Regions from separate parts of the Homo sapiens genome. Here all the other regions are linked to region 4. The links come from fine-mapping of genetic effects on gene expression. A gene starts in region 4. Each other region holds a variant in brackets. All regions are shown on one strand. Distances are between the middles of the regions. Region 1 overlaps ANKRD6 (ankyrin repeat domain 6). Region 2 overlaps MDN1 (midasin AAA ATPase 1). Region 3 overlaps CASP8AP2 (caspase 8 associated protein 2). Region 4 holds the start of LYRM2 (LYR motif containing 2). Region 5 overlaps MDN1 (midasin AAA ATPase 1). Region 6 overlaps MDN1 (midasin AAA ATPase 1).

Evidence for each region. PIP is the estimated chance that this variant, and not a neighbour inherited with it, causes the effect. A credible set is the group of variants that fine-mapping cannot tell apart.
Region 1: its variant is the best candidate, but not a certain one, in a credible set for the expression of LYRM2 in unexposed skin (GTEx, PIP 0.57).
Region 2: its variant is the best candidate, but not a certain one, in a credible set for the expression of LYRM2 in subcutaneous fat (GTEx, PIP 0.68).
Region 3: its variant is the best candidate, but not a certain one, in a credible set for the expression of LYRM2 in whole blood (INTERVAL, PIP 0.66).
Region 5: its variant is the best candidate, but not a certain one, in a credible set for the expression of LYRM2 in esophagus mucosa (GTEx, PIP 0.54).
Region 6: its variant is the best candidate, but not a certain one, in a credible set for the expression of LYRM2 in gastroesophageal junction (GTEx, PIP 0.88).

What each region holds. Positions count from the first base shown.
Region 1 is chr6:89,609,788-89,614,901 of GRCh38, reverse strand. It overlaps ANKRD6 (ankyrin repeat domain 6), which reads right to left. Exons shown (of 16, transcript NM_001242809.2): 6 at 2,532-2,630; 7 at 1,012-1,110. All of the region lies in intron 1 of LOC124901359 (a long non-coding RNA gene), which reads left to right. Among named protein-coding and RNA genes, the nearest start is that of MDN1-AS1, 26 kb to the left of the region's middle. The variant C/T (reference allele first, on the strand shown) is at 2,666.
Region 2 is chr6:89,666,999-89,672,112 of GRCh38, reverse strand. MDN1 (midasin AAA ATPase 1) reads left to right here. Exons shown (of 102, transcript NM_014611.3): 83 at 1,033-1,194; 84 at 3,962-4,099. The region is part of intron 1 of MDN1-AS1 (MDN1 antisense RNA 1); the gene reads right to left. Among named protein-coding and RNA genes, the nearest start is that of LYRM2, 31 kb to the right of the region's middle. RefSeq lists a silencer at 3,609-3,903. The variant T/C (reference allele first, on the strand shown) is at 2,492.
Region 3 is chr6:89,856,963-89,862,076 of GRCh38, reverse strand. It overlaps CASP8AP2 (caspase 8 associated protein 2), which reads right to left. Exons shown (of 10, transcript NM_012115.4): 6 at 4,878-4,993. Among named protein-coding and RNA genes, the nearest start is that of CASP8AP2, 30 kb to the right of the region's middle. The variant G/AG (reference allele first, on the strand shown) is at 2,524.
Region 4 is chr6:89,636,478-89,640,959 of GRCh38, reverse strand. LYRM2 (LYR motif containing 2) reads left to right here and starts at 2,213. Exons shown (of 3, transcript NM_020466.5): 1 at 2,213-2,288; 2 at 3,078-3,218; 3 at 3,607-4,482. The coding sequence starts at 2,244. The coding sequence ends at 3,687. MDN1-AS1 (MDN1 antisense RNA 1) reads right to left here and starts at 2,428. Exons shown (of 4, transcript NR_111915.1): 1 at 2,324-2,428. RefSeq lists enhancers at 2,414-2,463, 2,684-2,913, 2,266-3,465.
Region 5 is chr6:89,738,380-89,743,493 of GRCh38, reverse strand. MDN1 (midasin AAA ATPase 1) reads left to right here. Exons shown (of 102, transcript NM_014611.3): 31 at 214-344; 32 at 3,116-3,260; 33 at 5,039-5,114. Among named protein-coding and RNA genes, the nearest start is that of MDN1, 79 kb to the left of the region's middle. The variant GGGGTTTCACCATC/C (reference allele first, on the strand shown) is at 2,434.
Region 6 is chr6:89,678,114-89,683,227 of GRCh38, reverse strand. It overlaps MDN1 (midasin AAA ATPase 1), which reads left to right. Exons shown (of 102, transcript NM_014611.3): 73 at 1-96; 74 at 2,477-2,639; 75 at 4,483-4,629. The region is part of intron 2 of MDN1-AS1 (MDN1 antisense RNA 1); the gene reads right to left. Among named protein-coding and RNA genes, the nearest start is that of LYRM2, 42 kb to the right of the region's middle. The variant G/T (reference allele first, on the strand shown) is at 2,504.

The DNA.
Region 1 (5,114 bases), 26 kb after region 4:
AGTTATAAGACTTCTAATTCCTATGCTTGCTTGGTGGGTTTTTTTTTTTGTTTTTTTTTTTTTCCTTTAAAGAGACGGGGTCTCATTCTGTTGCCCAGACTGGTGTGCAGTGGCAAGATCATGGCTCACTCACCACAGCTTCAAACTCCTAGGCTCAAACAATCCACCTGCCTCAGCCTCCTGAGTAGCTGGAACTACAGGCACATGCCACTCTGCCCAATTTTTAAATTTAATTAACTTATTATTTATTTATTTTGAGATGTAGTCTTGCTCTGTTGCCCAGGTTGTAGTACAGTAGCATGATCTCGGTTCACTGCAACCTCTGCCTCCTGGGTTCAGGCAATTCTCCTGCCTCAGCTTCCTGAGTAGCTGAGATTGCAGGTGCACGCCACCACGCCTGGCTAATTTTTGTATTTTTGGTAGAGACAGGGTTTCACCATGTTGGCCAGGCCGGTCTTGAACTCCTGAACTCGAAGTGATCCACCCACCTTAGTCTCCCAAAGTGCTGGAATTACAGGCATGAGCCACCACGGCCGGCCAAATTTTTAAAAAAATTTTTTGTAGAGACAGGGTCTCGCTATGTTGCCCGGGCTGGTCTTGAACTCCTAGCCTCAAGTGATCCTCCTGCCTTGGCTTCCCAAAGTACTGGGATGTGAGCCACTGCACCCGGCCTCCCTTGCTTCTTTACTAAATCACATTCTTCCTCGTGGGTTTTCTTTTTAAAATCACATTTAAAAAACAAAGCCTGCCCCAGGATCTCCAGAAAATGTTCAATATGCAAATGTGGTGATATGCACAGGAATTATAAGGGCACACTTTCTCTAGCAGGCCAGATAAGCCAGGGCCACTAGAACTCAGTGTGACACCCATGCAAAGCCCACTGCTGGCTGAGTCCCAGGTAGGTGACATGGCAGCTTCCCAGCAGCCTCTGCTCCCGTTTGCACTAACAGACCTGTCCGGTAGCCTTGTGGGAAGGGTGCTGGCAGCCATGAAGAGAATACATGCACTGACCTGGTTCTTTTCATGGACAGAACAGAAAGCAGTGAGGAGGAGCCTAATGATGGACAAGTGATTATAGCGCGCAGCAACGTGCAAACAGGTGTCTCCTGCCTGCGGACAAAAATCAAACTCTAAGCACAATCTGAGCAGTTACAAAACAAATAGAGAAAAGTAGAAAGAAAATGTTATTTAAAAGCTAGCAGACTATCATGTACTCTTTAGGGAATCATAAGCAGCTCTTTTAACATAGATGCTCCACCCCAAGGCTCGCCATTCTTTGCTGCTGTGGGCAGCCCTGCTCCCTTTCTGCCTGTGCAGAACAACCACGTGGTCACAGAATCACTGCTTCCACGTTTATGAAACTAGACGTCTGCTCCCCATGAGACCTTTCCAAGAGCTAAGGCAGGCTCTGCTTACCTGTGCTTGAGGAGGATCCAGGGACCCTAGCCTCCCTACAACCCAAAAGGTCAGTAGTATACTGACTTAAGACCAACAGCATTGCTTTGGAAATGAGCCCTTCCCAGCATAGATCCCTCATGGATGAAAGGACAGGGCAGCAGGGGGGTTGTCAAATCTTAAGATTACACGTACCCCCTGAAGTTCAAGGAGTATCCCACTTCAGTTGGACCCCAATATCCTATATGGAGCTATGTAGTAGGGGAGCTCATAAGGAAGCAATCACTGGGAGCAAAAAAAGGGTATGAAGAAAAACTCAGGGGCAGGATGCTCAGTAAGCACAACAGGCAGAACCCTGTTCCCACAAAGACAATAAAGAACTGGAGACAAAAAGCTGCCTGCAGTGTTTTCTTGCCATTTCCATCCTAGCTCTGTCTGGAGAACACTGGCCACTTGGCATACTTTTCTCCCCTGCATTAAGACGGAACCAAGCTCAAAGCTGAGGTTCAGAGCATTAGATGAGTCTACCCCAAACAGGGAGACCCTCACCTGAGGACACTTTAGAAAGAAGCCTCAGATTTATTTATTTATTTAGCCAACGTGGCTAAGGCAGGGGATTTATAAAGGAAATACAGCTTCTTTGTGAAGAAGCGATACCCATGTGACCTTTCCGGTCAGCTCATCCCAAGGACGCCTCAGTCATCAGTAGGACCTGCTCGCTATAGATGCTGGGCATGGGGCATTAGAGGACCTCCCCTGTAAATGGCACCAGCTCATATTTGCTGATAATAGTACAACACTCAACACTCTATGTGGGTAGAGACTTTCTTAAAACATTAACTGGTTTCCTAGTCTGTAATTGGCCAGACACGTACTGTAAGAAATGATAAACCAAAGATGAGGCATGAAGGGAAAATGATGGGAGAAAAGCAGTATTTCCAAGTCTTTTGATTCTTCTTCTCACATGCCTGAATGATCCCTTAGAAAATTGCCAAAAAAAGAACACTTTAGAGATAGTCCCCAAATACTTTTTACATTTTAATTTCTAGATGTTAAGGTTCAAGTATGCTCATGAAGTTATTTTCTGAAGTGACACAAGAAAGAGAGAACGTGAGAATCTGGTTTTGTTCACCCACATTATTTTTGAGGTCAGCGCGGGACCCGGCCAGCAGGAGGACGCGCGTGCTCTGGGAGTGGCTGTTCTGGCAGGCCAGGTGCAGAGCTGTGTTCCCCGCCTTGGAGAGAGGCAGAGAGAGGGAGGACATATTAG[C/T]AACATGCTTCCGCACAGACTTGCATGCCTTGCAGAGGGGCAGTACTTACTCGGGGGAAAAGGCAACGCTCACATTCTCTGCCTCTTGCCCGATGGTTTCAGTGGGGATGCTTCAGAGGTAAGAACATTTAATTTGGAGTCTGAACAGGCAGAAGAGTCCTATTTGTCATAAAACCTTGGTTCCAAGTCCTGGCTCTGCAACTTACTAACTAAAAGCCAGCCTTTTCAAATGCTCAAATTCCTTACCTGGGAAATGGAGCATGACCCCCACATCCTAAAACTATGGGGATTGACTCAGAGTGTCTAGGAAGGTGTTTTCTTAACACACAATGCTGGACACATGCACAGTACTCAATTCCTATCAGATGACTTCCTGCCCCACATGGGCAATAGCTGTGGTTACAATCCCTGCCAATGGTGGGCTAAAAAAAGTAAAACTAGCCACTTCCTGGAAGGGCAGGCTAATGCAACTGAGATTTAACTTGTTAGCCTTTTTCAAGTCACCCATTCTTGTATTTTTCTTGAAACATCAAAATTTTAACTATGGACACCAGGCCCTGCCTTTCAGGCAGTACAGTTGCATCTATCACTTAGGACACAGATTGAGACCCTCTTGCTTTTTGGGTCCTTCTTGTTTTTGAGAACCTCAACAAACCACATCACAATGACAACCAAGGGTCAGAATAAGGTCCATAGCAATACTGCAGGAAAAAATTGCAGGACATGAACAGAACTTTTGAGTCTATGGGAGTAGGGCATGTGAGGCCGCTGATAACCCCTAGAAAAGTAACAAGAAAGCAAGGCCGTGTGATAGGTGACATTGTGTCATCCAAGAGCCTGCAAGCACTCAGGAGGTTAAACACAGAAGCTCCGCGTTGGTTCTGCTGAGCTCAAGTGCTGGGTCAGGCTTGCAGGTGCGTGGGCTCAGAGCATTACACTGCCTGTTCATTGCTTCTCCCTCACCTAGTTCACACCCTTCTGGATCTCACAGTCCTGGCTGCCGATACTCCAGTATATCAGATTCCTGATCTTTTAAAAAGAGAAATGAGTTAAAAAAAAAAAAAATAGAGGAATACTGGATGCGGCCAGTTTGCTTATCCCCCTTCTCTTCACCTTAGCTCCAACCAGCCCTGGTGGACCTTTTGTCTCACTTTTACCTCCAGGCACAGGGAGGATTACAGGCCTGAGGTTCTAGCAGGCTCGCTGGTTCTCAACCCTTGGGTGCACATTAGAATCACCTGGGGAAGCTTTCAAACCAGCCCTGTGCACAGCCACAACCGTTCTAGGGACTCTGATTTATGTGGCCTTGGGGATGGGTATCCAGCATCCCTATTTTAGTACTGAAAGTCCCACATTCCGGGAAACCCTTTAGCCCAGGGCAAACTGGGACAGTCCATCACCCCAGGCCTGGTCTTCAGGTTTTTTTTTTTTTTAAGTTTTGTTTTTTTTCCTTTTTCGTTTGTTTATAGTTCCCCAGGAGGGTCTAATGTGCAGCCAGGTGGAGAACCACTGCTAGTTTAGTTCTCAGCAACAAGGGGTCTGCCCAGGTTTTAAAAACACTACTCTCAAGTTGTCTGCAAGTTATGGGCTTCATGGCAACCACTAAATACGTGTTGAATACATGAGTGAAATGAAAGAAATCTGATGCCTCTAGAAATAGATCATACCAAAGCTTATATTGCCAATAAGGAAATATCGATGATGTGGAAAAGCATTTGCACCAAGAAAATTAAAAACCATAGGTTTGGATAAACAAATTGTGGTAGATCCACACAATGGAATACTCCTCAGCAATAAAGAGGCGTGAACCATTCCTCCATGTAACGACACGGAGGAATCTCAAAAACATTATGCTAAGTTTAAGAAGCCACACACAGAAGGCCGCATACTGTATGATTCCATTTACATGACCTTTATGAACAAGCAAAACAGATCCGTGGTTGCCCGGGGCTGGGAGAGGGTGACTGGGGGCCTGCCACCAGAGGGCGCAAAGGAACATTAAGGGGCAATGGAAACATTCTATATCTTATGGTGGGGGTTACACAACCGTATACATTTGTCAAAACTCACAGAACAGCGTGACTTCATACCTATATCTCAAAACCTGACATTAGAAAATGTGACCTAGGGTAGATATATATGTAGCAGGCGTTTTTCCCCACCCTGAGTAGTGGGTACTGATTTCCCAGACAGGAGCTGCTACATCTGCTGAATAAGAAGGATCTTTCTACGGGCTATGGCTGGTACAAAATGTCCCTCCCTTTGAGACGCATGAGTTTCCTGACCTGTCCTTCTGAAGCCATTTTATTTACACAGAAACAATTTCTGGGCTGGGTGCAGTGGTTCACGCCTGTAATCCATCACCTTGGGAGGCCGAGGTGGGTGGATCACAAGATCAAGAGATCAAGACCATCCCAGCCAACATGGTGAAACCTCGTCTCTACTAAAA
Region 2 (5,114 bases), 31 kb before region 4:
GTGCCAGAGCAGGCCTCAGTGCCAAAATCACTAAGAACTTGGTCTCTTTATTTATACGTGCAAAGTCATTGACAAGCTTTGAAGAGCTTAGGGCTTGCTAGCTAATTGTTAGATGCATAGGTGCAGAAATGCTAACCATTCAGAATATCCATTATATTAGGATTCTTTCATATCTTATTCACATACTCCCAAGTATCTGATGTTACTGATAGACGATGTTATCAACTGAGGCTTAGCAGCCATCCTGTGTAACCACCATTCCCACTACAATAAGCGAACAGAGTAAGCAGTTGTAGTCTTTACAGTAAGTCCAGAGAAGCAACTTACTTTGCAGGACATTGTATGTTATTCTGTAGCATTGCCTCCGGTGCTAACTTTGAATCAGCAGAATTTATTTATAAACATTTTATTTTTCTTATTTTATTTTGGGACACGGTCTCATTCTGTTGTCGAGGCTGGAGAGTGTGGTGGCATGACCATGGCTCACTGTAGCCTTGACCTCCTGGGCTCAGGTGATCCTCACACCTCAGCCTCCCAGATAGCTGGCAGTATAGGCATGCACCACCATGCCCAGCTAATTTTTAAAGTTTTGTAAAGATGGGTTCTGGCTATATGTTTTTTTTGTTTGGTATTTTTTGTAGAAATGGGGTTTTGCCATGTTGCCCAGGCAACATGAACTTGAACTCCTGGGCTCAAGCAGTCTACCCACTTTGGCCTCCCAAAGTGCTGGGATTAAAGGCGTGAGCCACTGTGCCTGGCCAACATTCTATTTTTAAAAAACCAACATTGTTAGCCAAAGGAGACATCGGTTTGAGATTGTACTTTTGTGACGATATATGTAAATGAAGAAATCTCAGTGAGCTGTGTGTATTGGGGTGGGTGGAGGTTACAAACACATACATGTAACTTGCCATTAGTACTATTTAGTACATTCACAATGTTGTGCAATTACCACCACTATCTAGTTCCAGAATGGAAACCTGGTACCTGCCAAGCAGTGTGAGCAGGCCTTTTGTTTTGTTTTGGTCTCAGTTCTTCAGCCAATCCTGTTCCTTGCTGGTGCGCCTGGTGCCGGTCCTCTCCAGCTACTCAGACCTCGTCCTCTTCTTCCTGACCATGTCTTTAGCAACTCACCGTAGTACTGCAAAGCTGCTCTCTGTGCTTGCCCAGGTCTTTACAGAGCTTGCCCAGAAGGTAAGGACTGTTCACATGGTGCACTGTGAGCAGCAGGGACCCAAGTAAATTTCATGTCATTAGTCTTTGGTGTGATAGGCTTTTATTTTGGACCACCACAAATAGCAGGATGTGATTTGCTCTCCCTGTGGATTATTTAGGGCTTTGTCTGGCATCCTTTTGCTAACGCTGTTTCCACTAAAGTCTCAGAACCTGCAGATGATACCTCCTATCCCCAACCCACCCTTTCCCCCAAACTGACGAGTTCCCTAAACTCCAGCGCTGTCTAAAAGCTGCTGCCGTCTGTTAACACCCTTCCCTTCCCATCCCCAATGTAAATCTTCAGATAACTCTTGAACTAGAGTTGTAGGATAAACCCTTAAGGCTATTAAGTTTTCTTTTAACCATGTTGGTGTAATTATGATTAAATGATAATGGGCCTGTTATTATTAGAGTGTTTTTCGCCTGTTGTGGTGGCTCACGCCTGTAATCCCAGCAGTTTGGGAGGCTGAGGCGGGTGGATCACCTGAGGTCAGGAATTTGAGACCAGCCTGACCAATATTATGATGAAACCCCATCTCTACTAAAAATACAAAAATTAGCTGGGCGTGGTGGCATGTGCCTGTAATCCCAGCTACTCAAGAGGCTGAGACAGGAGAATTGTTTGAACCCGGGGAGGCGGAGGTTGCAGTGAGCCAAAATCATGCCATTGCACTCCAGCCTGGGCAACAAGAGCAAAACTGCATCTCAAAAAAAAAAAAAAAAAAAATATATATATATATATATATATATATATATATGTTTTTTTGGAGACAGAGTCTCCAAAATTGTAATTGTAATTGTAATCTCCACGTGATTACAGGCACGTGCCACCACGCCTGGCTAATTTTTGTATTTTTAGTAGAGACAGGGTTTCACCACATTGGCCAGGACGGTCTCGATCTCCTGACCTTGTGATCTGTCCACCTCGGCCTCCCAAAGTGCTGGGATTACATGTGTAAGCCACTGCGCCCAGCCAGTTTTTTTCTTTAGCAGGGAAGTCATTTGTTCATTCAGCCATGTACCCGGTATTGTGAAAAGCACTGAGGTTGTAGAGATTGTAGACCCTCCCCTTGAAACTCAGGGGCAGTAGACAGTGAAATCTAACAGCAACATGGTGTGGGTAGGTCTAGTCATAGAGATATCCAGCTCTCGGTCTCTCTTAACCTCACCAAGCCTCAGTTTCCTCATTTGTAAAATGAGATCTGCCTATACTAATATGCATTTTTGTGAGAACCACCTGCATTTGAGTATATAAGTTTTGTTTTTGTTCTTAGCA[T/C]TCTAAGATTTTCTCCAAGCTTAATACAGATGAGATGTACTTGAGGAAGATATGAATTTACAAACTGAAGATGGGGTCTAGATTTCTTATAAACAATTAAGAGTTCTTAGTTCCGAGTCTCTGAAATACTGGAAAGAGGTAAAAAGTGGAAGCCAAGCCTAATGCCTTGTATCAAGAGGATAAATATGTTTATCTGTAGTAATGATAAGTAACAGTAATAATAATAATAATAAAAAGTAATAATAAGTAAAAGAATGAGTCTCAGGTTTCTCCGCCTCTGGTGGGCACCAGGCCAGCCTTAACATTCCATTGCTTCTTGGAGAAAACACTGTATACTAAAGATAGTGGCAGGAAAATGTGTGGTTCGGGTGCCTTGAGATTTGGCTCAGCTGGATTTGTCCATTTGTACCGTAGCTTTTGTCTGACAGGCTGTAGAATGACTTTGGCCTTTCAAACCTTTGTCTGTTGCGGGTAGGAATGGTTCTGATATGTGCAGAATGTTGGGAGCCCTGTGGCTATCCCAGACGTAGCAGCTGCAATGATATACTCTGGTAAGGGCATCTGAAACTCCCTCCTATGTGGTCGTATTCTTTGTCTATTTCTGAATGTCTCTCATTTAAATAATGTAGTTCAATGGGAAAATTAAGCAAGTAAGCCAAACTGTATTTTCCTATCAACATTCTGAGAATATATGTCCTAAAAGTGGGTTTGGCTTGTTAAAAATTTTTCTAAGTGTCCAAATTGTATTCATATCTTTTCTGAGTAGTTCAAGGGAACTTGAGAGTAGGTTAGACAGTGCTAAGATAATAGATCTAGGCTGTAATTAAAGCTCTTGATCCGCAGGAAGCTGTTTCTGTGTAACCAAGTCATAATTAGTGTTTACTGGTTTGGGATCTTAATTCCTTGCTAATTAGCAGCTTATTTTTTTGTGCATTCCCATCCTCAGATATATCTTCATAGTATATATTTTCTCTTACAAAATTAAACTTTCTGATTGAGAGTCACTACTACTTTTTCTTTTTACTTCTGCTCAGCAGGCTAGTATTCTTCTCAGGTTATTTTCCTGTATAAAATAGTTTTTTTCAACATTTCACAGTTATTACTATGTCTGACTGTGTTCTCTCCAGAGCCTGTTCTGCCCTTACTCAAGGACTTTTTCCAAAATACTGTCCTTCTAGTATACTTCATTTAGGTTTTTGTCTTGGCAAAGTGACAAATGACCACATGCCAGAGGCTTCTACAAAGTCAAGTCATATGTTAAATCTGATGTCAAGCTGTGAAACTGCATAACTATTAGCACCAAAGAGGAGAAGAATGTCAGAAGTCTCCTGTACTTCCAGCGGATTTAAGATAATGAGCTAGAAAAAGAATTCAGTATGTGTTTAAATTGTTTTCCTGTGGCAAGAATGAAATCTCCTTTTAAAATTGCTTTTGTGCCTAATTGTTCACTTCCTTTTTCTTTTTTCTAAGGGATTTTGCTTGCCCAAAGAATTTATGGAAGATTCAGCTGGAGAGGGAGCAACTGAGTTCCATGACTATGAGGGAGGTGGAATTGGAGAAGGCGAGGGCATGAAGGATGTGAGTGACCAGATCGGAAATGAAGAACAGGTACGTTTTCACATAGGTATACAGTTGACAGAAGATCACTCTCTTTCTTTTCAACATGTAAGTTACACATAAAAATGGTTTTTACTAGGTTAATAATTTTTAATCTGTGATCTACAGAGCCCTAGATATATTGGTGCTTCGGCAGTGGGTGTAAATAAAAAGCCTAAAATCCACAGGAAGGAACCTGGCAACTCCATCATTGGTTTTGGCTATAATTATGGAGGAAATGATTTTTACTTTTTTTTTTTAAATGGGCAGATATTTACTGATGATTTTCTAGAGTATTTTTGATAGTATTTTTAAGCATAAAAGGCCTGGCTATCTTAAGTGATAATTGCATTAAACAATAATGCCAAAATTTGCTGTTAATAGGTTTTACTGTTGTATATCTTTAAGGCATAGAGTGTTTTAAAAAATCTGTATCCTTTTTTGGTTGGAATCAAGCAACCTTCTGAACTATTCAGATGCTGTGAACTAAGATTGTTACATTGCTTGGATTTTTTAAATGCCTGTCTCATTTGTGAGTGATTTATGTGTATTGGGTGTATCACTTATATTCTAAGTTAAATCAGATCAGAAACTTGTATTTAAGGTAATTTTATAGTTATTAAAAATAAAGGAGAAAACCAATTCAAATTCCCTCCCTTCCTTGGCAGAGAAAACTGGAAAGCAATTAAAAGCCAAAAGAATAATGCTAGTATTTATGTTATGGAGCTCTAATTTTTTTTTTTTGGACCTATATTGTCCTTAGATAATTGCTTTGTTATTTTGGCCTTCTGTATTTCTCAAATCTAAATCAGTGTATACTACTTTTCTAGTAGAAAAAAAAAGTCAAAAGCAAAAGCAAATCTAATAGAAAAGTTCACACAAAAAACATTACATGGAATAAAAAGCTTCCAGAACAATTTGGTAGTGTCTGCTGAATTTTAAATTATGTGTATTCATTGACCCCCAAATTCCATGTTTTCTTATAGAAATGCTAGTGTCAAAGATAAATAGGTATATGAGTGTGTAT
Region 3 (5,114 bases), 220 kb before region 4:
ACTTCATTCACATGAGTAATTCATGATTAAGAAATTACCAGCTTTGGCCAGGCATGGTAGCTCATGCCTATAATCCCAGCACTTTGAGAGGCCGAGGCAGGTAGATCACTTGAGGTCAGGAGTTTGAGACCAGCCTGGCCAACATGGCGAAACCCCGTCTCTACCAAAAATACAAAAAAATTAGCCAAGCGTGGTGGCAGGCACCTGTAATCCCAGCTACTTGGGAGCTGAAGCAGGAGAATTGCTTGAACCTGGGAGGTGGAGGTTGCAGTGAGCCGAGACTGCGCCACTGTATTCCAGCCTGGGTGACAGGGCAAGACTCTGTCTCAGCCTCAACCTCCTGGTTGAGAAAGAAATTACCAGCTTTGGCCAGATGTGGTGGCTCATGCCTCTAATATCAGCACTTGAGGAGGACAAGGCGGGAGGATCATTTGTTTGAGCCCAGGAGTTCATGATCAGCCTGGGCAACATGGTGACATCCTGTCTCTAAAAAAATTTTTTGTTTTAATTAGCCAGGCATAGTGGTACATGCCTGTGGTCCTAGCTACTCGGAAGGCTGAGGTGGGAGGATCACTTAAGACCAGGAGGTTGAGGCTGCAATGAGCCATGATTGCGCTATTGCACTCCAGCCTGGGTGACAGAACGAAGTGAGACCCTGTCCCTAAAAAAAAGAAGAAAAAGAAATTACCAGCTTCCAACTAAATTAGCCTGTTTTTAAAACATGAAATTCTCTTTCATGTGCCTTGCTCAAATAAGTTTTGAGGACCTGAGGATCTATCCCAATACTTGCCAATGGCTCTTAGACTTACTTCACTACAGTGCATAACTCCCCAGCTAACCACAAGTTCACTTCTTTTAGAACAAGTGACATTATTTTCTTGCCTTATTCATTCTAGCTCAACTGAAACACAAGGAAAAGTAAAATCTTGCTAAACAACAGACATGAACAAAGTAAAACTCTACATAATTCTCTATCCTAGTTTTCTGTTTCACATACAATCCCACAGCAAGCCAAAGCACCAAAGGCCATCTTAAGATGTTATATACTACGCAAAGTAAAAAGGAATAAAGAGTTGTAATTCTTTCCTAGGAGAATGGTATATATTTACTGTTTAAAACAAACAAAAATCTAAGTCTTAAGGTTTTATATTAGTGTTTAAAAAAACTGGTAGGTTTCCTAGCAATAAAATGTAGATAGCTCAATTTAGCTTTTTTTTTTTTTTTTTTTTTTTTTGAGACAGGGTCTCCCTCTTTCACCCAGGCTGAGTACAGCGGAATGATCATGGCTCACTGCAGCCTTGATGTCCTAGGCTCAAGCAATCCTCTCACTTCAACCTTCCAAGTAGCTGGGACTACAGGTACAAGCCACCATGCCCAGCTAATTTTTAATTTTTCGTAGAGATGGGATCTCACTATGCTGCGCAGGCTGGTCTCAAACTCCTGGACTCAAGCAATTCTCCTGCCTTCGCCTCCCAAAGTACTGGGGTTACAGGCGTGAGCCACTGTGCCTGGCCTATATTGGCTTCTGGTAATAACTTCATCTTCCAGAAATTCCATAATTTCTCTGAAATTTCATATATCTTTTTCTAATCAGTAGCAAATGTGTAGAAAAACCCAAAACTTAAAAAACTCAGAAATATAGGCAGATTGTTATAAGAGAGGATTAGAAAAACACACAACCTAAAACAATATGTAAGCCTCATATGAACCCTGTTATGGATTGTGTCCCCTCTCCTGACCAAATTCATAATTTGAAGTTCTAACCCATTGTTCTTCAGAATATGACCTTATTTAAAGGGTCTTTACAGAAATAATCAAGTTAAAGTGATGTCCTCAAGGTGGGCATGCAATATTACTGGTGTTCTTATAAAAAGGGGGAAATTTGGACACAGAGATACATTTAGAAAGAGGATATAAAGAGACATAGGAAGTAGACAACCATCTAAGAGTACAGAGGCCTGAATCAGATCCTTCCTTCAGAGCTCTCAAAAGAAACTAACTTTGCTGACACTTTCATTTTGGACTTCTAGCCTCCAGGACTGTGAGACAAATTTTGGTTGTTTAGGCCACCCATTTCTGGTAGTTTTGTTACACTAAGCCTAGGAAACTAATATAGATACTGACTCAACCGACCAACTGTTGGTAGATACCTTTGAGATCATTGGGGAAATGTAAACACGAAAAGCACTAACCACAAAAGGAACACCCTTGAAGCTGGGTGCAGTGGCTCATACCTGTAATCCCAGTACTTTGGAGGGCCAGGCGGGCAGATCACTTGAGATCAGGAGTTTGAGACCAGCCTGGCCAAAATGGTGAAACCCCGTCTACTAAAAATACAAAAAAATCTTTTTTTTTTTTTAAATTTTTTTTTACAGGTGGTGCATGCCTGTAATCCCAGCTACTCGGGAGACTGAGGTGGGAGGATCGCTTGAACCCAGCAGGCAAAGGTTGCAATGAGCTGAGATCACACCACTGCACTCCAGCCTGGGCAACAGAGCAAGACTCTGCCAAAAAAAAAAAAAA[G/AG]TCTGGGCACAGTGGCTCACGCCTGAAATCCCAGCACTTTGGGAGGCCAAGGTGGGTGGCTCACCTGAGGTCAGGAGTTCAAGACCAGCCTGACCAACATGGTGAAACCCCGTGTCTACTAAAAATACAAAAATATTAGCTGGGTGTAGGCTGAGTGCGGTGGCTCATGCCTGTGATCCCAGCACATTGGGAGGCCGAGGTAGGTGGGTCACCTGAGGTCAGCAGTTCGAGACCAGCCTGACCAACATGGTGAAACCCCGTCTCTACTAAAAATACAAAAATTAGCCAGCGTGGTGGCGGGTGCCTGTAATCCCAGCTACTCGGGAGGCTGAGGCAGGAGAACGCTTGAACCTAGGAGGCGGAGGTTGGAGTGAGCCAAGATCACGCCACTGCACTCCAGCCTGGGCAACAGAGCGAGACTCCATCTCAAAAAATAAAAAAATTTTTTTTTAACTAGCCGGGTGTGGTGGCGAGCGCCTGTAATCCCAGCTACTCAGGAGGCAGAATCGCTTGAACCTGGGAGGCGAAGGTTGCGGTGAGGTGAGATTGCACCATTGCACTCCAGCCTGGGCGACAGAGTGAGGCTCTGTCAAAAAAAAAAAAAAAAAAAAAAATGGCCGGGCACAGTGGCTCACGCCTGTAATCCCAGCACTTTGGGAGGCTTGAGGCAGGCGGATCATGAGGTCAAGAGATCAAGACCACCCTGGCCAACATGGTGAAACCCCATCTCTACTAAAAATACAAAAATTAGCCAGGCATGGTGGCGCGTGCCTGTAGTCCCAGCTACTCAGGAGGCTGAGGCAGGAGAATTGCTTAAACCCAGGAGGGGGAGGTTGCAGTGAGCCAAGATCGCGCCACTGCACTCCAGCCTGGCGACAGAGTGAGACTCCATCTTAAAAAAAATAAAAAGTGAGTTAGCAGAAAGAAAGAAAATGAAAACAAGTTTACAAGTTTAGACAACTTTTTCAGAGGTTAGGCTATGAAAATATGAACCTCTCTGGAGCAAAATATTGCCTCCAACCAATAAAAGAGAGAAATTAATGGAGAAAATCCCCTTGAGAAAGAAAAGAATATACAATTGAGAGATAGTATAAGGGCTGTTTATTAATAGGGTATATGAGCACAGATGCCCTCTTGATATTTTAGTAATTTAGTGGGGACCTAGAAGAACCCATGACATATATACCATCATCTCATCAGGGCAAACAGTATTAGAGCAAGAACTCAGTGTTTTAGGAAACTAAATATATTCAGATAAATATGTGGCAATGTTCTATTTTTATTTGCTTCCTTTTTTTTTTTTTTTTGAGATGGAGTCTTGCTGTCACCAAGGATGGAATGCAGTGGTATGATCTCAGCTCACTGCAACCTCTGCGTCATCCCAGGTTCAAGCAATTCTCCTGCCTCAGCCTCCCAAGTAGGTGGAATTACAGGCACCCACCACAGGCACCCACCACCATGCCTGGCTAATATTTTTTTTTTTTTTGAGATGGAGTTTCACTCTTGTTGCCCAGGCTGGAGTGCAATGGCACAATCTCGGCAACCTCTGCCTCCTGGGTTCAAGAGATTCTCCTGCCTCAGCCTCCCGAGTGGCTGTGATGCTGGGTATGCGCCACCATGTCCAGCTAATTTTGTATTTTTTTTTTTTTTTTTTTAGTAGAGATGGGGTTTCACCATGTTGGTCAGGCTGGTCTCGAACTCCTGACCTCAGGTGATCTGCCCGCCTCGGCCTCCCAAAGTGCTAGGATTACAGGCATGAGCCACCATGCCCAGCCAAATTTTTGTATTTTTAGTAGAGACAGGGTTTCACCCTGTTGGCCAGGCTGGTTTCGAACTCTTGAGCTCAAGTGATCTGTCCCCTTCAGCCTCCCAAAGTGCTGGGATTACAGGTACGAGCCACTGCGCCTGGCCACAATGTTCTATTAATAATCACATATGGGCCAAGCATGGTGGCTCACCCTTATAATCCCAACACTTCAGGAGGCAGAGGCAGGAGGATCACTTGAGGCCTTGAGTTCAAGACCAGTGTGGGCTACATAGTGAGACCCTGTCTCCACCAAAAATAAAAAATAAAAAAATTAGGCAGACATGGTGTTGTGCACCTGTTATCTCAGCTACTTGGAAGGCTGAGGAAGGAGGATCTCTTGAGCCCAGGAGGTGGAGGCTGCATTGAGTTATAATTACACCACTGCATTCCAGCCTGGGTGACAAAATGAGACCCTGTCTCTAAAAAAAAAAAAAAATTAAAAAATAAAAAATAAAAATACATTATTTTCATCTTTCCTCTAAAAGTTAAAAATATTCCACATATCAATACCCACGTAATTTATAACAGCTACACCGCTCAGTAATACCTTTGGTGAAGATTACTTATTTCTTCATCCTTGCGGTTTATTTCCACTCTGGCAGTTTTGATAAGTGCTGAAATATTCTTCTTAAGAGACTGGTTTTCGTTTATTAAGCTGAAATTCTAAAACACCACAAACTATATTAATAAAGTACATACCTATAGGGTTACTAATACTACTACATACATTAGCTGATAATTATTGAATGTTAACTACATGCAGGCATCATACATTTATAAGCCC
Region 4 (4,482 bases):
GTCTTTGAGCAAGGAGCATATGTGACTCACGACAGCATTACCAGTGTCTAGCAAGAGTGAGCCCTTTTTTTTTTTTTTTTTTTTTTTTAAATAGAGCTTTGCTCTTGTTGCCCAGGCTGGAGTGCAATGGCGCAATCTCGGCTCACTGCAACCTCCGTCTCCCAGGTTCAAGCGATTCTCCTGCCTGAGCCTCCCAAGTAGCTGGGACCACAGGCGTGCGCCACCAGGCCCGGCTAATTTTTTGTATTTTAGTAGAGACGAGGTTTCACCATGTTGGCCAGGCTGGTCTCGAACTCCTGACCTCAGGTGATCCACCTCGGTATCCCAAAGTGTTGGGATTATAGGCATGAGCCACCGCACCTGGCCTGAGTGTTTCTTGATGGGAAGAAGAAATAATGTAAAAATGTCTTTCTCACATATTAATGTATAGATTCAACACTACTTCAAAATTCCAACCAAGATCACAAGATGATTTGGAGGGAAATGATACAAAACATTTCTAAAGATTATAGAGAACAGTACTAATGGATTTTTTACAAGAAACTAGAGTCCTGCCAGATAATAAAAACATATAAAACAAAAAGTAAAAACTTAACCCTAAATGAAACAATTCTGGACAGATTACTCAGACCCTAAAAGAATTTATCATACAGTCAAAAAGGCATCCATCATAAAGCCCCGAAAAAGGAATGAGTTATGTAATCAATGGTATTGATACAGCTTAACATCTAGAAAAGAACTTAGATCCACGTGATGCTGTAAACCAAAGTAAATTCTAGATGGAGTAAATATTTTAAAAATTAAAGTTTTTAAAAAACGAATTACAAAGGCCTGAATGGGAAATGAAAAGCCTCAAAAGGCACAAAAATACATGATTGTATAAAGTTTCTGTATGTATAAAGAAATGACAAAAAATATAGAGCCCATATAAATGTCCTCATCATAAACGGACCCAAGTCATGAACAATTCACAAAAACAGTATAACTAAAAATGGCGAGGGGTATTTAACTTCACTCCTTTTAAAAAGTTAGCAATTAACTATTACAGCTAATGTATTAGACAAAATTTGGCATATATTATTGATAATATGATCATGCAGTTAGCATCATTCATACAATGCCTGGTAAAGTTCAAAAGAGCTAATGATTAGAGTTCTTACATGTGCCAGGACCTGTTCTCAGTACATTAGAGATACACAACTGAGGTAGATGCTATATTTCACTTTACAGGGGAGGTAATAGGCCAGGAGAGGGGAAATAGCCAGAACACAGCTAGGAATAGGGAGCCCCAGGATGCTAACAGGCGAGGCAAGCAAGTCCCCAGTAAACTAGTAATTGAACATTTTTCGTTCTATTTTAATTCGATACAACACCACTTGGAAAATTAATATGGCAAAGATTCGCTAACTCCACTTCTAGTGATTTAACCCAAAGGCATGTGTATTGTGGGAAAGATAAAACAACTATAAGGAAATAAAAGCAAAAGCCTGAGGCTTAGGGATGTTAGGCTCCTCGTTATTAGTGATGAAAAGTGCTTAAGACTGAAGTGGGTGAGCCATTCAAAGCTTTGTTTCAAATGATCATGAAGGCCACCGCTCCCGGAAAACCTTTGCGCTACAAAAGAACAGGACAAAAACGAGAAAGAGAAAAAACCAACACAAACTGTAAAAGAAATTAACACTTTCAATTTTAGTATTTTCAACTATACACATTTTTAAAGGCTCGAAAGAACATTTAAATACGTTTTCACCTCTTTCCCCCAAAAAAACCTTAACTTTTTTTTCGAGACAGGGTCTCGCTCTGTCGCCCAGGATGGAGTGCAGTGGTGCGATCTCGGATCACTGCAACCTTCACTTCTCGGGTTCAAGCGATTCTCCTGCCTCAGCATCCCGAGGAGCTGGGATTACAGGCACCTTACAGGCCTCCCAGAGTGCTTGGGACTGCAGGTGAGAGCCACCGCGCCCGGCCTCCTTCACTTTCATTTGAACTCTCTTTACCAGGAACTGTGTTAAGTGCCCTACCTTTCTTCTTTATCAAAACGACCCTATGGTGCACTGTTATCCTATTTTACCGACGAGAAAACTTCGGCCAGCGCAGCAGCTAGGGCTCAGTCCCGAAGCCTCGCGCTCTCAGTCCGAGAGCAACCCGCGGGCCGTCTCCTAGGAAACCGGGCTCGCCACACCCCTTGGTCGAACCCCACTTCCGCTCCTGCGCGCTGAGGCTCCGGCGGACCTCTGGTGGACATGGCTGCTTCCCGCTTACCCCCAGCGACGCTAACGTTAAAGCAGGTACCGGCGGTTCTCTGCCTTCCAAAGCAGCTTACCTGGGTCTGAGCTGGATTCTCCATCTGTCCCTATCCCCAACGGGGCGGGTTCCGGGGTCCTGATGCGGCGTGCGCGCCCTCTGAGATTGGCCCGATGCCTGCGGGGCGGTGCTTCGCTCCGCGGGGCCTGACGGGAGGCACTGGCTGCTTCCTTGGTTTGGTGCGATCGCGTGAGACAGCGTCAGGCGCTTGATTTCCCTGAGTCCCGGTGCCTCAGCTGCCCAGTGCCCACGGTAAAAGTCTATTGCACTGAGCTGTGGCAAACAGCAAATGAGATTACCAAAGATTTGAACAACTGTTAATTTAGAAAAAGTGCTGTCGTTGTAATAACAACTTCTAGGAGACCGGCAGCCCTTTTCAGCCCGGTAGGCAGCTCCTGATTTTTTAATGGTTCTTAGGTTTGACAGAGCAGTAAGCAAAAAGATCAGATGAACCTCGTGATGCTTTCTTTAAAACATCTTTTTGAGACAGGGCCTCACTCTCGCCCAGGCTGAGTGCAGTAGCGCAATGAAGGCTTACCTCAGCTTAGACCTCCTGGGCTCAAGTGATCCTCCCATCTTGGCCTCCCAAAGTGCTGGGATTACAGGCCTGAGCCACTGCATCTGGCCAAAAAAAGAAAAAAAAAAGTTTTTCTTTGCCTTTTTCAAAATTGACCAACGAGAAGTACTCTGGTTACAGCTTGGTTTGCTGAAGTAGAACTTTCCAGGCTGGCGATTGTGCAGTAGTAATTGCTATTTACTCCTCCCTTTTACAGTTCGTAAGAAGGCAACAAGTTCTTCTCCTCTACAGAAGGATTTTGCAAACAATTCGGCAAGTTCCAAATGATTCTGATCGCAAATACCTGAAAGATTGGGCAAGAGAAGAATTCAGAAGAAACAAAAGTGCCACCGAAGAGGTGAGAACAAAATCATGGTGAGGACAGATCCTAACCCTTTTTATTGATCAGTGAATTTTTTTTTTTAAGTTTAGCAGACATCTTGGAATATAGTGCCACTGAGCTGGTATATCTTGATCATTGCTTGTAATGTTACCGATTTTAAATTATTATTTTAAAATTTAGTATTTTAAAATATGTAGATAAAAGAGTATCTACACTCTTCAGCATCATCACTTGACTTTTATGTTGTACATTTTATATGTATGTATGTGGAACTCTTTTAGCTTTTCTAAAAGGCAGCAGTTCCAATAGGTAGTATTGGTTCTTGATTTTAACAGATAAAATGGTATAGCTATACCTTGTTTAACCAGGTAAAACTATAACCAGATTTCACTTTATTCTACAGGATACAATCCGGATGATGATTACTCAAGGCAATATGCAGCTCAAGGAGTTAGAAAAAACACTTGCTTTAGCAAAATCTTAACTATAGCATTATTCTGAAGGATTTTCAAAGTCTCCATGTGTTTTGTTGCATTTAGGATTAACAATGGACAACACAAAGCCCAGTCTTACTATTTATATGTACAGTATTTGGTGATAGAGAGCAAAGGAAAAACACATCAGAACAGTTGCCTTAACACTGAAAAACATACCCTGCATTTTGAAAATGTTTATGGATGTCTCAGCAGTTCTTAAAAGAAGAAAAAAACCACTAACAAATGGCCAGTAGATGCTGGACACAATCATTAGGGAAGTGTAAATCAAAACTACTATGAGGTCGGGTGTAGTGGCTCATGCTTGTAATCCCAGTACTTTAGGAGGCTGTGGTAGGTGGATCACTTGAGGTCAGGAGTTCAAGACCAGCCTGGCCAGCATGGTGAAACCTCATCTCTACTAAAAATACAAAAATTAGCTTGGTGTGGTGGTGCATTGCCTGTAGTCCCAGCTACTTGGGAGGCTGAGGCAGGAGAATCACTTGAACCCAGGAAGTGGAGGTTGCAGTGAGCTGAGGTCGTGCCACTGCACTTCAGCCTGGGTGACAGAGTGAGACAGTCTCTAAAAAAAAAAAAAAAAAACAACCCTGAGATTCACATTCACTAGAATGGCTGTAATTAAAAAGAGAAATAATAATAAGTCTTGGTGAAGATGTACAGAAATTACAGAACCCTCATACATTGCTGGTGGGAATGTAAAATGGTGTAGCCACTTCAGAAAACAGACGGTCAGTTCCTCAAAAGATGAAACAGCTGCTGTATGAGTTAGCACTTCTACCCCATGC
Region 5 (5,114 bases), 100 kb before region 4:
GGGTTCTGGTTTGGTTAAATGTGCATATCTGCAGATTTTCTCTGGTCTACAAGGGCCTTCACAAGCATTCTGGTGTGCAAGTTCTATCTCCTGTTCTCAGATTCTTACTTTCCTCAGAATGCCTACTTCACCCCTGGAAACACCAGCCAGCTGCATGTATATTGTCTGTGGAGCCACCTGCCCTTTAATTTTCCCCACTTTTTCAAATTATAGGAAGAAATTGACACATCAAGACTCTTTGAGTGGCATGATGGGCCTCTGGTTCAGGCCATGAAGGAGGACGGCTTTTTCCTCTTGGATGAGATCTCATTGGCCGATGACTCTGTCTTGGAAAGACTCAACAGGTACGTGCCTGAGAGGTTTGCCTTGTGTTTGATATTTTTGTTGGTGTGATTTTTTTTTTTCTCCCTGAGACAGTGTTCTCACTCTGTCACCCCAGGCTGCAGTGCCGTGTCATGATCATAGTTCACTGTAGCCTCAAACTTCTGGGCTCAGGTGATTGATGTGATTTTTATAGATATTTAATCTTGTGCACAGTAATACTTCTCATAGGTGCACCTTAGTAAATGCTTGAAATTATTGATGTATTACCATGTCTTTTGGCTTTAGCATTCAGTGTTTCCTAAATTTCTAGGTTTTTTTTGCTATCAATAATCAGAACAATGGGATCGTGGAATGGTAGGGCTAAAACATGAGCCAAAGTCAAAACTATTTTTTAAAGTGAATTATATCCCTACTCTCTTAATATTTTGAAAGAACTGTAGTCAGAATCCTAGACCCATGGCTATAAGCCATCATCAGACCTCAGACCAATATGAATCTTGATGTAGTAACACCCATTTTTTCTTTTGAGGTATAGTTTACATATCATAAAATGTATATTTCAGTGAGTTTTAGTAAGTTTATAATCCCATGATGGGTTCTTCTTGCAAGCTATATGCATAGAACTGAGTCACTGAGTTAGTGGTATTGCAGTAGAGAAATAATTTAGTAGTTGCAGAGCTAGCCAAGTGGAAGGACAGGAGTTTATTACTCAAATCAGCTTCCTAAAAATTTGGAAGATAGGGGTTTGTTTGTTTATTTTTTTAGACACAGTCTTGCTCTTTATCCCAGGCTGGAGTGCAGTGGTGTGATTTTAGCTCACTGCAACCTCAGCCTTCCAAGTTTGATTGTTGTGCCTCAGCTTCTTGAGTAGCTGGGCTACACATGTGTGCCATCAGGCCCAGCTAATTTTTGCATTTTTAGTAGAGATGGGGTTTTGCCATGTTGGCTAGGCTGGTCTTGAACTCCTGACCTCAGGTGATCCGCCCACCTTGGCCTCCCAAAGTGCTAGGATTATAGATGTGAGCCACTGCACCCGTCCTGGAGGCTAGGGTTTTTTTGTTTGTTTTTTGAGACAGAGTCTACTTCTGTCACCCAGGCTGGAGTGCAGCGATGCGATCTTGGCCCACTGCAACCTCTGCCTCCTGGGTTCAAGCCATTCTTTTCATTCAGCCTCCTGTGTAGCTGGGACTACAGGCATGTGTCACCACTCCCAGCTAATTTTTGTATTTTTAGTAAAGATGGGGTTTCACCATGTTGGCCAGGCTGGTCTCGAACTCCTGACCTCAAGTGATCCTCCTGCCTCTGCCTCCCAAAGTGCTGGGATTACAGGCGTGAGCCACTGTGCCCGGCCGAGGCTAGGGTCAGAGGCCTAGAGAATGGGGAATGCTGTTGGGACAGGGTTGAAATCACAGGAAGTTGAGCTATCTTTTTGCCCTAAATAAGTTCATGGGATCATAAGACCTGTTGAGCCACTTCTTGGTATGGGTTTCCATTCCAGGTGGTGCTAGCCGTTTTATCAGAATCAGGGTCTGAAAAGTACCTTAAACACTAATCTTAGGTTTTATAATAGAGATGTTATCTTATAGGAGCAATTGGGAAGGTTATGAATCTCGTGACCTCTGGCTGTGTCCTGAGCCGTAATTTTAACCTTTTGGTTAGTTTTATGAAGGAGGGGTTAGTTTTGGGGGGGCGCTATTACTTTTCTTTTAAAGTTGAACTGTAAACTAAATTTCTCCCATAGTTTACTTGGCCTATACCCAGGAATGAACAAGGGCAGCTTGGAGGCTAGAAGAAAGATGGAGTCAGTTAGGACAGGTTTTTGTGTTTTTTTTTACTGTCATAACTTTTTGTTAGACTTTTTTCTCACTCATAATTTTTGCAAAGGTGGTTTCAAGCTTTGCAACCATCACAATTTAGTTTTTGTGTTTGTTTTGTTTTGAGACAGCATCCTGCTGTATTGCCCAGGCTGGAGTTTAGTGGTACAGTCTCAGCTCACTGCAGCTTCTGCCTCTCGGGTTCAAGTGATTCTTGTGCCTCAGCCTCCCGAGTAGCTGGGATTACAGGCGTGAGCCAGCACAGTCTGCTAATTTTTGTATTTTTAGTAGAGAT[GGGGTTTCACCATC/C]TTGGCCAGGTTGGTCTCCAACTCCTGGCCTCAAGTGATCTCCCCACCTTGGCCTTCCAAAGTGCTGGGATTACAGGCGAGAGTCACTGCGCCCGGCCTACAATCCAGTTTTACAACATTTCCATCATTCAATAGAATCCTTTGTGTGCATTACACTAAATTTCTGATTAATCTCTTTTTTGTCTCTGCAGATTTCTTTTCTGGGTATTTCAGATAAAAGTTCTCTTCTCTTACTTTGCATTGATGTTTTGAGGTTCATTCCTATTTCAGCACGTATTATTAGTTTGTTCCTTTTTGTCCCGAATAGTATTGGATATACCACATTTTGTTTATCCATTCACCAGTCAATGATATTTGAGTTCTTTCTAGTAGTTGGCTATTATGATAATGCATGCAATTTATTTGTTTTCTTGTAAGTTATTCATTTTTAAGACCAATGCCTTAATAGTTTATAAGTTGAAAAGTTTTTTTTTCTTGATCAGAAATAGCCATTATTACACAGAAATTGGGATAGTGAGTCATTTTAAAATTTGTGATAGGAAACCATTAACTAAAGTAAAAATTCAGTAGAAAGAAGATAACTTTTTTTTTTCTTTTAAAGAGCATTGAAGATTGTAAAACAGAAAGATTGTATAAGCCCTTTTCACTGTTCTTCAATTTTTCTTTTAGTGTCCTTGAAGTAGAAAAGTCTCTGGTATTAGCTGAAAAAGGCAGTCCAGAGGACAAGGATAGTGAAATAGAGCTGTTGACTGCTGGGAAAAAATTTCGTATTCTAGCAACCATGAACCCTGGGGGTGACTTTGGAAAAAAGGAGGTAAAACTTTACTGATGCACATTTTCTTTCTAGGTTTTGACCTCAGCTTACTGGTACTCGTAAATATAGTATGTAATAATGGATTTGGAATTTTATGTTAGGTAAAAAGTGGGTAAAAAGTGTAAAAACTCAAAAATATTTTAAAATAATTATTGGGTTAGAAAAAAATTCTGACACAAATATCTCCTTATTTGATATCTCACTTTGTGTATGTGCCTGAAATGTCATTGTTACAGTCACTTTGCCTAGCCCTTTACATATGTTACCCTGAGAAAGCTCACAGGAGCTCTGCAAGAAAGTTATTATTGTAGTTTTATGGATGAGAAAAGTTGGATCTGAAATTTAAGTTTAACCTCTGTTTTTACAGTCCACTTTCTTAAACACACCTCTGCTTTCATGGGTGGTTTTAAAGTGACAAAAAAGTCACAACCAGGAACCCTCTTCTGGTTTGTAGATGGAGCTTATTTGTTCTCGTAAGGGTTATGTGTGTCACTTTCTGACTGCTGATAAAGTAAAGGGCAGAGGGTAGTTCCTATGTTCAGAGGGTTGTGTTCAGATATATTTGGGAACCAACAACCTTGTTGGTTTCCAGCTCAAGAAACCTTTCAGTGGAGAAGTCAGCACTATGTGTTGGATCCCAGTCTGTTAAAGTTAGGAAGAGAGTGATGTAACAGGTCAGGGATGATGAGAAGAAACAGAGGGGTTGATCTTAAATAAGACAATTAAGAGTGTTGGTAATTTGGTGGGTAGCTGAAATGATATATTGGGCCTAGGTTTCCTCAGTATCATAAGATGAAAATTGTCTCTATGCTTCAAGATATGCTCTGAAGAGAGGGAATAAAATACATTGCATTCAAAATATAAAAACTGGCTTCTGGGCAAGTAGAAATGCCACAGAGAGGTCTGATTTCAAGTTTGTGTATATTAGCTTGGCTGTCAGATTATCTTATCTTGTTTTCCTCAAGTCAATGCTTGCTGACTTTTACCCAAGGGAAAGTTACTTTTTAGTTTCGCATGCCTAACAAGCAGAGCAAGGTAGGATGCTGGACACCGGAGGTACTGGTTGTCTATGATACTGATGAGGTACACACACGTATGCTTTATTCCTGGGCCTCTGTGGTAGACCAGATAGATGATCATCAAGTAAAAGGAAAGTAATTACAAAGTAATCAGACAAACCAATAATGATGCTTATGTGGCATTGCAAACATTTGTGAATAGTGTCAACTGACCTTGTGGTGGGAAAAGGAATCTACAGGGGCAAAGGCCCTAAGACTGGAGTGGCTAAACAATTTCTTGTTATTCAAGAGGTAGAATATATACTTTTTAAAATCACACTCTCATTGAGCTATGTAAAAGAAGTTTCTTCCTCCTACATCAGACTGCCCTTCTCTGTGGGAAGACAGGTGTTTATTTTCTCTGAAGTATTATTTAGGTACCTGATGCAAAGTAAAGGTAAAGTAAAAGGAAGAATCTTTGCCTGAGGGGAAGAGTTCAGATTTGACTGGGACTGGCTGGAATCCTGCTTCCACCACTTAGTCTGTAAGGCCTCTGGACCACGTCTATTAAGAAAGTGATGATGATACTGGAAGGTGTCATGGAATATAAGGAGTCAAGACAAAGTACATCTTCAATTAATTATATCTGATAGTAGAAATAATTTTTAAAAGTGTGTAGTATTTGCTGGACTTAACAGCTAACAACATTCTTTCAAGACTTGTTTTCCAGCTTTCCTTACAGTTTTAAAAATTCACATTGAAGTTTTGTGTTTCTTATAGCTGTCTCCTGCCTTAAGAAACCGGTTTACAGAAATATGGTGCCCTCAAAGCACAAGCCGTGAAGATTTAATTCAGA
Region 6 (5,114 bases), 42 kb before region 4:
AGGCCAACAGATGGAGCTGCAAGTGAACTGTCTTCCATTCAGAATCTGAACAGGGCACTGAGGGAGACCCTGTTAGCCCAACCAGCAGCTGGGCAGGTACTTGGTTGTGGGACAGTGCTGGCTTATTCCCAAGCCAGTCAAGTGGGATCTGTGTTTTATGTGCAAGGCATGCCTCAGTACTAGACAAGAAAATGCCTTTGAAATCTTGTTCTTTGGACATATATAGCATGTATTTGCCTGACTTCCCTGCAGAATAAGGCAAAAAATCTTGGGGTTTTTTTTTTTGCTTTTTTTTGAGACAGATTCTCGTGCTATTGCCCAGGCATGATTATGGCTCACTGCAGTCTCAACCTCCTGGACTCAAATGATCCTTCCACGTCAACCTCCTGAGTGCTGGGACCACAGGCACATGCCACCATGCCTGGCTATTTTTTTTTTTTTTTTTTTTTTTGTAGAGATGAGGTCTCACTTTGTTGCCCAGGCTGGTCTTGAACTTTTAGTTTTTTTTTTTTTTTTTTTTTTTTTTTTAAGACAGAGTCTCGCTCAGGCTGGAGTGCAGTGGCACGATCTCGGCTCACTGCAAGCTCCGCCTCCTGGGTTCATGCCATTCTCCTGCCTCAGCCTCCCGAGTAGCTGGGACTGCAGGTGCCCACCACCACGCCTGGCTAATTTTTTGTATTTTTAGTAGAGACAGGGTTTCACTGTGTTAGCCAGGATGGTCTCGATCTCCTGACCCCATGATCTGCCCACCTCAGCCTCCCAAAGTGCTCGGATTACAGGCGGGAGCCACCGCTCCTGGCCGAACTTTTAGTCTTAAGTGATCCTCCCTGCCTCGGCCTCCCAACGAGCTGGGATTATGGGCATGAGTCATCGCACTTGGCCTTGCTGCTTAAAATTTAATGTCAGCCTGTGAGAAATAATTGTGCTTTTACCTGTGAACATTTCATCTGCTATGAGCAAAGATTTGAAGCATCAGTTTAAGAATATGCCGTTGAAGCTGCCTGTGGGCTACCACATGAGGAAGCTACTGCACAGGGTGTGAATATGTGCCGTGATGTGCTGGTTTATAGCAGATGCTGATTACTGTGGTGTAAATACTCCTATTATGGCCAATTTCAAGCACCAACAGTTAAGATTTGGCTTGCAAAATTCCTGAAAATTTAACAGTGATACATCTTGAGTTAGCAGGTCTGTTACAGAATGGATGTTCCTGCTTCATGTCCTTGGGTGTGGGGAGCTCCAGGATTGGAAGACACCCCTCAGGAGAGTAATTTCTGGGCAGGCGTAGTGGCTCACGGCTGTAATCCCAGCACCTTGGGAGGCTGAGGCAGGAGGATCACTTGAGCCCAGGAGTTTGAGACCAGCCTATGCAACGTATGAGACCCTGTCTCTCCAAAAAAAATTACTTTTTAAAGAGTAATTAGCTTTGTCTTCTTACTGTATTTCCTACCTGGGGCTCACAGAGTTAGTAATGAAAGTCCTTAAGCTATTTTTGTTATTTTAGTGGTTCAAAACTCATAATAGAAACTGAGCATACAGCCATAAGATGGCTGCAGAGATATGATATGGCTACCAAATTTATTTTCTTTTGACTGTATTTGTCAGCTCACTGCTTCTGTCATTCTGATCAACAATTTTGATTTGCTAATAATGACAACATAGGAGTTTCAGGTTATTCCTCAAGGAAAAAAAAATGAAAATATGCCCTTGATGGACGAAAGCTCTTCCCTTCATATAACATCTGAATTCCTGTGTCTGAGGTGCGGTGGCTCATGCCTGTAATCCCAGCACTTTGGGAGGCCAAGGCAGGCAGATCATTTGAGACCAGGAGTTCGAAACCAGCCTGGCCAACGTGGTAAAACCCCATCTCTATTAAAAATACAAAAAATAGCCAGGCATGGTGATGCATGCCTGCAATCCCAGCTATTCGGGAGGCTGAGGCACAAGAATCACTTGAATCTGGGAGGCGGAGGTTGCAGTGAGCCAACATCGGGTCACTGCACTTCAGCCTGGGTGACAAAGCCAGACCCTGTCTCAAAAAAAAAAAGGAAAGAAATCTGAATTCCTGAAATTTAAACTGTTAATTAGGGGTAACTGGTCACAGGAGTAGGACCAGTTTCGCCTGGCTGCTGTGTCTGAGAAACACAATGTGGCTCAGCACCTTAAGGGCAGCAGTGATATTATTCATTCTACTCTGTTCATAATTCAGAACTGGAGTCTCCTTGTGGCTATCATAGCAAGCATTGCTGGATGTAGGGGCATGGGGGTCCTTCAGTTATAATGATCTCATATGGAGCAGTAATATGGTTTTCTAAATATCCACAGTATGTCTCTTTTAATTTTAGTGATGCTACATTTGTTCTCTATTTGCTGAACTAGGGATGTGTTTTTGTGTGCAACAGTTAAATTTAGTTCCCTTGCAGGGACACTGCCTGTCATTCTTGGCAGTGAGGCTAACCTGTCTTTTGTCTCACAGGCCACAATTCCAGAGTGGTGTCAGGGC[G/T]CTGCTCCTTCCGGCTTGGAAGGGGAGCTTCTGCGTCGCTTGCCAAAGCTCAGGAAACGCATGAGGAAGATGTGCCTGACGTTCATGAAGGAGAGCCCCCTGCCTCGCCTTGTGGAGGGCCTTGATCAGTTCACAGGTGGGTGCCAGCATCCAAGTCAAGGGTGGATCTTTCTGTTTTCCCCAGTGGCGCAGGAGGGCTGAGAATGTGGCAACTGTGTCCTTTTTTGATACCTTGTGTAGTGTTGAACAGTTGATTGAATAAGCAAGTGGGCTTAAAAACCCACAGAGCTCAGAAACAGGAGCCTACTGAGAACACACAATCATAATTTTCACATTGTCGTCCTCTCATGTAACTTGGCACTGTGCCATCTTTTATGAGAGCCTTGTCTATACTAGTTCCTGTTGGTTGGTGTTACCAGTAAAGGGGCACAGAGGTGGATTTCCCAGTGTCTAAGCTGTCCCCACTGTCAAAAAGTTGTCTCACTTGAGGAGGATTCATCCCCATCCTCTTGCTTTCTTCACTTCAGAGAGGCACAGCAGTTTCATTTCTCAGGCTGTCTTTGCTCAGGGAAGGTGAGAGCGAAGATCTCATAGTGTAACACAGCAATAGCTGGGAAGGGAACCCAGAATTTAATAGAATGTTTGGGCCCCTGGCAGCCTCTGACTACCTCCTTCACCCCATCTACCCCCCAACTGCAGTGAGTGTGCTGTCAGTGAGGGTGGCCTGCCTTTAATGAGGTTGCATCTAATCTCAGGGAGCTCTTCCTTTTTAAAACTTGTCAGCCGTTGCTCAAGGTGACTCAGGCCTAGGGGTGGGGGTGAGTGGAATACAGATCCATTTGCATCTCCTGGAGAGGGGATGCGCTGCAGGATGCAAAGCCTCCCTCATCCTCTAACTCTCCCACACTGTCTGATGTCTTTGGTGTCCTTGTGCTCACTGGTGACTGCCTATATTTGGCTGGTAGTGCTGCCTTAATATAGTACCACAGACTGGGTGGCTTCAGTGTGAGGCTAAAAGTCCAAGATCAAGGTGTCAGCAAGGTTGATTACTTCTGAAGCCTCTCTCCTTGGCTTGCAGATGGCCACCTTCTCACTGTGTCCTCCCGTGGTCACTCTTCATCTGTGTGTTCTGTGTCCTGATCTCTTCTTTTAAGGACTTCAGTCAGATTAGATTAGAGCCCATTCTCATTTCACCTTCATTACCTCTCTAAAGGCCCTGTCTCCAGATACAGTCACATTCTGAAGTTCTAGGGGTTGGGACTTTAACATATGAATTGAGGGGGAAGACACAACCCAGCCTATAACACTGCCTGCAACAGGGAGGCGGCACCCTTGTGTTATTGGTACCCACGTGTATTCAGGAAGGCAGCTTGGTGCTATATAGAAAGAACTTGGGCTTTGGAGTAAGGTAGGCCAGTGTTCAAGTCCTGGCTCATCTACTCGTTCACCACATGGCCTTCAGATAGTGACTAGACCTCACTGAGCCTTTCTTGAAGTCTGTAAAATGGAGCTACAAATAGGTGCTTCTGAAGTTGTGCACATGAAAAGAGAATTTACGATGTACTAGCTACAAGTGGAAACTCAATACATATTATATTAATCTGAAATTTCCTTCAAGTGATTATAAATTTCTAGTATAATGCACTGCACATAGTTGGTGCTCAGTAAGTGCATTTGCTTGATTGATTATAAAACCCCTAAATACAAAAGAATGACTGCTGCTGTTCGGGTTGTTATTGTCAAGAGATTTGAAATCCTGTGTGTTATTTTTCTATTTCCATGCACCTTGACCAGTTTGGTTAAAACACTTAATGAGATTTTACCAAATGCTAGGGACTATGTTAAGTACCCAGGGTATAAAGATGAATGATACTTGGCCTTTGTTCTCCAGAAGGTCCCTGGTGTTGGGTAACAAACACATTACCAGACCCCTGGGATTTTCTTATTGTCTCCCCTCCCCGCCTTGTTTTCCCTTACAGGTGAAGTGATTTCCTCTGTGAGTGAGCTGCAGAGCTTAAAGGTGGAACCCTCTGCAGAGAAGGAGAAGCAGCGGTCAGAAGCCAAGCACATTCTCATGCAAAAACAGCGAGCTTTGTCAGACCTCTTTAAACACCTTGCAAAAATTGGTAAGGTTCTCACTTGAAACCCAATGAAATGTAGTCACCAACTTTTAGGGAGAGAAATGACATGACTGATTTTGGGGGAAATTCCATAGACAGTTGAGATGGTGGACAACAGAAGGTACAGGCAAGGTTTCCAGATGTCTAAGAGTTCCACTCACATGCAGGAAAATCCTATGACCAGCCATCCATGATTCCCAAATATTTCCCGCTTTGTATGAGGTTTCTCGGAATCTATATTTTTATTTATTTATTTAATTAATTTTATTTTTTTGAGACTGAGTCTCGCTCTGTTGCCCAGGCTGGTTAGTGCAGCGGTGTGATCTCAGCTCACTGCAACCTCCGCCTCTTGTTGCCCAGGCTGGAGTGCAATGGCGTGATTTTGGCTCACTGCAACCTCTGCCTCCTGGGTTCAAGCGATTCTCCTGCCTCAGCCTCCCAAGTAGCTGGGACTACAGGCGCGTGCCACCACACCCGGCTGATTTTTGTAT